Homo sapiens: one gene and its partner. The protein of the gene in region 1 interacts with the protein of each later gene in a pairwise test. Each region holds a gene or a part of one and is shown in the gene's direction. Other genes may lie near its edges.

The links. The genes of interacting proteins can lie anywhere in the genome.
Region 2: the proteins of PLOD3 (region 1) and COL17A1 interact in binary tests that used the Homo sapiens proteins (3 or more experiments, as listed by UniProt).

The regions. Positions count from the first base shown.
Region 1 is NC_000007.14:101,207,311-101,211,315, reverse strand, and holds part of PLOD3 (multifunctional procollagen lysine hydroxylase and glycosyltransferase LH3 precursor), read left to right. Parts: intron 1-642; coding exon 643-784; intron 785-871; coding exon 872-985; intron 986-1,154; coding exon 1,155-1,223; intron 1,224-2,358; coding exon 2,359-2,463; intron 2,464-3,591; coding exon 3,592-3,738; intron 3,739-4,005. UniProt on the Homo sapiens protein: Multifunctional enzyme that catalyzes a series of essential post-translational modifications on Lys residues in procollagen. Plays a redundant role in catalyzing the formation of hydroxylysine residues in -Xaa-Lys-Gly- sequences in collagens.
Region 2 is NC_000010.11:104,030,534-104,033,880, reverse strand, and holds the end of COL17A1 (collagen alpha-1(XVII) chain), read left to right. Parts: intron 1-505; coding exon 506-643; intron 644-912; coding exon 913-975; intron 976-1,126; coding exon 1,127-1,207; intron 1,208-1,590; coding exon 1,591-1,646; 3' UTR 1,647-2,595; downstream 2,596-3,347. UniProt on the Homo sapiens protein: May play a role in the integrity of hemidesmosome and the attachment of basal keratinocytes to the underlying basement membrane. The 120 kDa linear IgA disease antigen is an anchoring filament component involved in dermal-epidermal cohesion.

The DNA.
Region 1 (4,005 bases):
CCCAGCTACTACGGAGGCTGAGGTGGGAGAATCACTTGAACTTGGGAGGTTGAGGCTGCAGTGAGCCATGTTTCCACCACTGCACTCCAGCCTGGAAACAGAGGGAGACCCTTTCTCAAGAAAATAAAAAACAAGGGCCGGCCGCGGTGGCTGACGCCTGTAATCCCAGCACTTTGGAAGGCAGAGGCAGGTGGATTACTCGAGGTCAGGAGTTCGAGACCAGCCTGGCCAACATGGTGAAACCCCATCTCTACCAAAAATACAAAAATCAGCCGGGCATGGTGGCTGGCACCTCTAATCCCAGCTATTTGGGAGGCTAAGGTGGGAGAATTGCTTGAACCTGGGAGGTGGAGGTTGCAGTGAGCCAAGATCACACCACTGCATTCCAGCCTGGGTGACAGAGCAAGACTCCGTCTCAAAAACCAAAAACAAGAAACAAAAAAGAAGTGCCACAGCTTGGGGTAGGAACTGACCGCATTTTGGGAGGTGGGGTGGTTGGGACCAGCAGTGCTTGACAAGGGACATGCAGGGGCCTTATGTTCAGGGACTGGGATACCCTGAGGGAAGAAGGACTTCCCGGGATGAGCTGGGCAGAATTTGGGGGGCTGTCCTCCCAGCTGACCGCGGTGTCGGTGCCTCCAGGGGTGTGTGGAATGTACCATACATCTCCCAGGCCTATGTGATCCGGGGTGATACCCTGCGGATGGAGCTGCCCCAGAGGGATGTGTTCTCGGGCAGTGACACAGACCCGGACATGGCCTTCTGTAAGAGCTTTCGAGACAAGGTGAGCGCGGGTGCACGGTCTGGCCTGGGGGCAGTCCCCCAGACTCCAGGCATCGCCTGCATCACGGACACCCCCACCCCACTACAGGGCATCTTCCTCCATCTGAGCAATCAGCATGAATTTGGCCGGCTCCTGGCCACTTCCAGATACGACACGGAGCACCTGCACCCCGACCTCTGGCAGATCTTCGACAACCCCGTCGTGAGTGGGGACCCCACGCCCAGAGCACACAGGTTCCCCGCCTTGTGCTAAGGAAGACACCAAACGTGATGGCTGCTGCCAGCGCAGGACACTGAGTGGGAGGGGGCGGTCCCCTGGGGGCTGGGAGCGAGGGGGGCACAGATCTGATGTGCCCCCCACCCTCTCACAGGACTGGAAGGAGCAGTACATCCACGAGAACTACAGCCGGGCCCTGGAAGGGGAAGGAATCGTGGAGCAGGTGAGCCCACGCAGCCTCCCCACCCACCCCCTGCCCTCATGGCCATCGCCTCTTGGGGGCCCCCGCCTGGATTCAAAGTTTTCACACTGAGTTCCCCAGAGATCTGAGGGTTTTCTGTTCAGACAAGATGAAGGCAGAGGCCGAACAGAAAGGACTCTTGCCCCCAAAGCCAGCATTGATCAGACAGCCTCTTCTCCTGTATATTGGGTATACTGGTGTTATGCTTGAAATCACATCTTAAAAGAAGAATGGGGCTGGGCTCAGTGGCTCATGCCTGTAATCCCAGCACTTTGGGAGGCCAAGGTGGGTGGATCGGTTGAGGCCAGAAGTCCAAGACCAGCCTGGGCAACATAGCGAGAATCTGTCTCTACAACAACAACAAAAAAATTAAATAAGAAATGAGGCCAGGAGTGGTGCTCATGCTTGTAATCCCAGTACATTGAGAGGCCGAGGCAGGCAGATCACCTGAGGTCAGGAGTTCGAGACCAGCCTGGCCAACATGGCAAATCCTGTCTCTACCAAAAAAAAAAAAAAAAAAAACACAAAAATTAGTCAGGTGTGATGGCGTGCACCTGTAGTCCCAGCTACTCGGGAGGCTGAGGTGGGAGAATCGCTTGAACCTGGGAGGCAGAGGTTGCAGTGAGCCAAGATCACGCCACTGCACTCCACCTTGGGTGACACAGCGAGACCCTGTCTCAAAAAAAAAAGAAAAGAAAAAATTAGCTTGGCATGGTGGCATGTGCCTGTAGTTCCAGCTACTTGGGAGTCTGAGGCGGGAGGATCGCTTGAGCCCAGAAGGTCGAGGCTGTAGTGAGCTATGATTGTGCCACTGCACTCCAGCCTGGTTGACAGAGCAATACCCTATCTCAAAAAAAAAAAAAAGAGGTATGCACTGTTACGGAAGTTTGGAAACCACTGTCCCAGCACGAGGGGCTCCAGGACCCTCTGCCACCTCTCCTGTGCCAGAAACCGGTCCTCAGCCTTGCCACTCCCTCAGCCCCTACCTGGCGGGTCCCCGGCTGCTCTCACAAAGCCTTCCCTGCTCCTCCCTGCCCCTTCCCATTCTGCCTGCTGCCTGTCCCCTTCCCCGTTCTGCGGCGTCAGCTAGCCCTGTTCTCCCTCGCCCCATCCTCAGCCATGCCCGGACGTGTACTGGTTCCCACTGCTGTCAGAACAAATGTGTGATGAGCTGGTGGCAGAGATGGAGCACTACGGCCAGTGGTCAGGCGGCCGGCATGAGGTAAGGGCCTGGGCGAGGAGGGCAGAGGCCTTCCCAGAGGAGGAGGTGCAGGATCTGGTAAACAAACAATGGAATCAGGAAAATGGGAGCAAAGAGGGGTTCCCAGGGGGGAGGCAGACCCTGGGGTCACAACTGCATTCATTCATGTATTCAAGAAATATTTACTGCTGGGCACAGTGGCTCATGCCTGTAATCCTAGCACTTTGGGAGGCTGAGGCGGGAGGATTGCTCGAGCAGGGGGAGTTTGAGGCCAGCCTGGGCAACATAGCGAGACCCTGTCTCTACAAAAAATTTAAAAATTAGCCGAGTTTGGGCCAGGTGCGGTGGCTCACGCCTGTAATCCCAGCACTTTGGGAGGCCGAGGCAGGTGGATCACCTGGGGTCAGGAGTTCGAGACCAGCCTGACCAACATGGAGAAACCCCATCTCTACTAAAAACACAAAATTAGCCGGGCATGGTGGCGGGCGCCTGTAGTCCCAGCTACTCGGGAGCTGAGGTAGAATTGCTTGAACCCGGGAGGCAGAGGTTGCAGTGAGCCAAGATTGAACTCCAGGCTGGGCAACAAGAGTGAAACTCCATCTCAGAAAAACCAACAAATTAGCCGGGCATGGTGGCATGTCCCAGCTATTCAGGAGGCTGAGGCAGAAGGATCACTTGAGCCCCAGAGTTAGAGGCTGCAGTGAGCTATGATCATGCCGCAGTACTCCAGCCTGGGTGACAGAGCAAGACTCTGTCTCTAAAAAAAGAGAAAAGGAAATCATTCCTGGGCCACTGTCCTAGACTGCACTGCAGGAATGCCTCATGCCGGTCGAGCTCTGCCCTGCTGTGAGCAGCAGCCACCACACAGCTTCTAAGGCTGCGATGAGCAGCCTGGGTGCAATAGAAGCCACGGGGAAGCCTTGACCCAGACTTGGGAGGAGTAGGGAGCTTCACAGGACAGGTGACATCTTAGCTGAGACTTGAAGGGCCGGGAGCAGTGAGTCAGGCCGAGAAGTAGCAAAGAAGACTGTTCTGCACAGAGGAACACAGGTGTGAAGGCTGGAGGACGGGAGGAAGGAGGCTGGACTGCCCTGGGGTGGGGAGCGCCATGGCTGGAGGGGCGGGTGGCTCAGTGCCCGCCGCCCCCAGGATTCAAGGCTGGCTGGAGGCTACGAGAATGTGCCCACCGTGGACATCCACATGAAGCAGGTGGGGTACGAGGACCAGTGGCTGCAGCTGCTGCGGACGTATGTGGGCCCCATGACCGAGAGCCTGTTTCCCGGTTACCACACCAAGGTGCGCTGCCCACCTGCCAGCTGCCTCCCCACCTTCCCCACCCCAGTCCCGGACAGGAAGTCTCCACGCAGACCCCTTTCGGCCCCGGCAGCATTTGGGCTCCATGCATTTTAGTTCCCAGGGGAATGAGACGCTGCAGGAGGCACCCCAGGGGAGGGAGGGCGCCAGGCTGAGACCCAAGGTGAGGCTTGGCCCTAATTTAATGCCAGTGAGCAGCGAGAGCCTCCTACGCAGGGGTCCCGCCGCCCCTCCCCTCCCCTCCCTGGA
Region 2 (3,347 bases), on another chromosome or scaffold:
TTTCTTGTTTGTGGAACCCCCAGGCTGTGAAGACAGAATCAAGCAGGCAGGGGCTGGAGGGGACAGGCAGCCCCAGCCTAGCTCTCAGCCTACTCAGCTTAAGGAGCCCCAGTCCTGGGACCCGAGCTGTGGGGAACAGAGCACGCTGGGGGCTTTGTACTTTGTTTTCCCAACACCTAGCTCGTTCTGGGTCCCAGATGAGTCATATGACCATGCTGGATTTTCTGCTGGGGCCGAGAGAAGGATGTTGGCTAAGAGTCCTTTCCCCGCGCAGCTTAACGGCACAGTTACGCAGTCAACAAGCTTTTGATGCCGGCCCACAGCAGGAAGAGACCTGTGCCAGTCACACAGTGGAATACAAAGGAAGTTGGAGGGCTTCACCCTTGCTGCGGCTTGATCTAGTTCAACTGCTTTGGGAGTTTGACACTCGGAGGGCACTGTGCTCCTGCTGAAGAGGGTACTGGGAGATCCCTGCTTCCTGTGCCCAAGCTCTGGTGTTTTACAGGTCAGGGCCTACTGCAAGGGATGGCCTACACTGTCCAGGGCCCACCAGGCCAGCCTGGGCCACAGGGGCCACCCGGCATCAGCAAGGTCTTCTCTGCCTACAGCAACGTGACTGCGGACCTCATGGACTTCTTCCAAAGTAAGGGCATCCAACTGCTTTCCCAGCACCTGCCTCACTGCATAGGTTCCCACGGGTCTGCTCCAGAGACACCAGTCTCATGAGAAATCTCCAGTTATTAACATTTGAGATGCTCAAAATTAGACAAATTCTATAAATTCTGAACTTTGTTTCCTCTTACACGTCCAAACTCCATCACTATCTCTCTGTGTTACTCTGAACAAATGACTTGATGTCCCAAGCTTCCAGGTGATCAAGACTCTAAGGCCAGTGTTTCCTTGCTTTTGCAGCTTATGGAGCCATTCAAGGACCCCCTGGGCAAAAAGGAGAGATGGGCACTCCAGGACCCAAAGGTAAGTGGTGGCAGAGAGCCAGTCCCTGGATCCTGTGTTAACACCCACCTCGTACTGAAAAGCAGCTCCTGTGCTGGTGCCACACCGGCTACCTGTGCCCTCAGTCCCCAGACTCATGTATTACTTAGTTACGCCCCATTTTTCCTTCCAGGTGACAGGGGCCCTGCTGGGCCACCAGGTCATCCTGGGCCACCTGGCCCTCGAGGACACAAGGGAGAAAAAGGAGACAAAGGTAAGTGTTGACTGCTCCACGTTTTGCATGTTCTGGAGGGCTGCAAGGCTGACGCTCATTAGAGAAGCAGGTGATTTGTTCCAGAGCAAGCCTGAGAAATTCAGGCAAATGCCAATTACTCCAGGCAGACACTGCCAAAAGCAGAATTTGCATAACAATCCCATTCACAGTGAGGAAGAAAAGGAGAGTGTCAAAGCAGGGAGGAAAAGGAGAACCAAGCTGGTGTTGAAATGGGGCAAACAAGTTAAATAAATGTAGTCTTACAAAAGATTTCACCTTTGAAGCCATCTTTGCAGTAGTCACGGTTGCCATAATTGCCCAAGCCAAGATCCCCACAGGCCACAAGATATGTTTTAACTTCCTACTGATCTTCTAACTTTCAGGTGACCAAGTCTATGCTGGGCGGAGAAGGAGAAGAAGTATTGCTGTCAAGCCGTGAGCTAGCCATGGCAGGACAGCTCCTGGACCAGGTCTCATAATGCATGTGGCACTTAGGTCCAAGGTCTCCAGAGGGTGAAAGCTGGAGTCTGTCAATGTCCTACTGAGACAGCACAGCCAACCTAGCTAGCAACATTTGTTTTAGTCTGAACAATATATACTTATAGAATTCAGTCAAAGATACACAATCTGAAACAGCTTCATGGGGTGGACTCTAACAGTAGTTGCAATGTTTTAGAATGAGACTTACTTCTCTGCTATCTAGATCTGAACTCCTTGGCTTCTTTACTTAGTTCAAGCCCCAGCCTAGGAAAGCCAGTTACATAAAAGTTGGCTCAGGAGTCTTAGAGCTTTACCTAAATATGAGCCCAGAAAACGGAGGATGGGGGTGGGGCGCCTTCCTGGAGGTGACACTTGATGGGGGTGTGTTCTGGTTACTGTTCTAAGGCTGTGCCATCAGCTCCTTCCTCCCCTGTTCATTCTGCATTCTCTAGTCAGTTGGCTAAGAAGTGACTCTTGCAACTAAAAAAATTAAGAAATTCACTTCCCCTCTAGGAGGTGATGATAGGGTTTCTAATGGTTATATGTATATCACATTCCCATTTGCTTAGAAAGTCTGATTGTAGCTATGATTGTCCGTAGGCCCATACTAGAGTTCATGGATATGTTATACTGAACCAGGCCAGAGCAAACAGAAAAAGAAGGTTGAGGGCAATGGACAAGGAAGGAATAAAGGGAGAAGAGGGAAAACAGAAAACCTGATGCTGGGGACACAGCATCAGCTCAAGACGTCACCCTCCATTCTGCACTCAGAAAATGGCACTTGGGGGACTGGGCGCAGTTGGTCTTTAACCACTTTTCAATGTCTAAAAACATTTGTTTGTGGTCTATAAGATGAAACATCATTTCAATCGTAAAATTTCCCATTAAAGAAGTTTTTTTTTCTAATATCATGTTTAATGTGATTCGTCTGACCAAAGAAAGATTAAAAAATAGTCTGGGTTAATTGGGTCTGATTCTAACACTGTTTATTACAAACACAAGAAAACAAAAGTGGTTGTATTTTGGGGCATAGCTTCTGGTATTTCATTCAATCCCTGAGGTCTTCAAAGGCAAATCTTTAGATACCTGCAACTATGAACTCAATCTGGGGATTTTACAAAGCACATGAAAGTTTTCCCCAAGCATAAGTTATTTGAAATAAACATGCAACAAATGAGCAAGAAGATTACTTGCAATTAGGTAGTGCTTTATCCTGGGGCAATGGAATTATGATTGTAGGGCAAGTAATATATGGAATATAGAAACTTCTATTAAAGAAAAATGTACAAATCTCAAATGCCCCAAAGAAATGCACAGTAAAATCAGACACTCCAATTGAGAAGAGACTCTACTTAGCCACTTTGTGAATTTGTTACAAGTTGTGACTCTCAAATTGCTGGATAATTAAAAATGGGATTAAATTGCATCTATTTCTACACCACTACTCTTCTAAAAAGACTTTATTTTCCATAAGGTCTCTGCTGAGTATCTCATATTATCCCAGAAAAAACACTCCACTTGTTTCCTCTATATCAAACAACCGCTAACGGCAACAACCAGTCAAGCACTACACACTCTACGTGGTCTTTTTGCCTCTTTTATTATATCCTGATAATTGCCTGCTATGAATTAATGAGAATTTTTTAAAAATAAGGCTGGG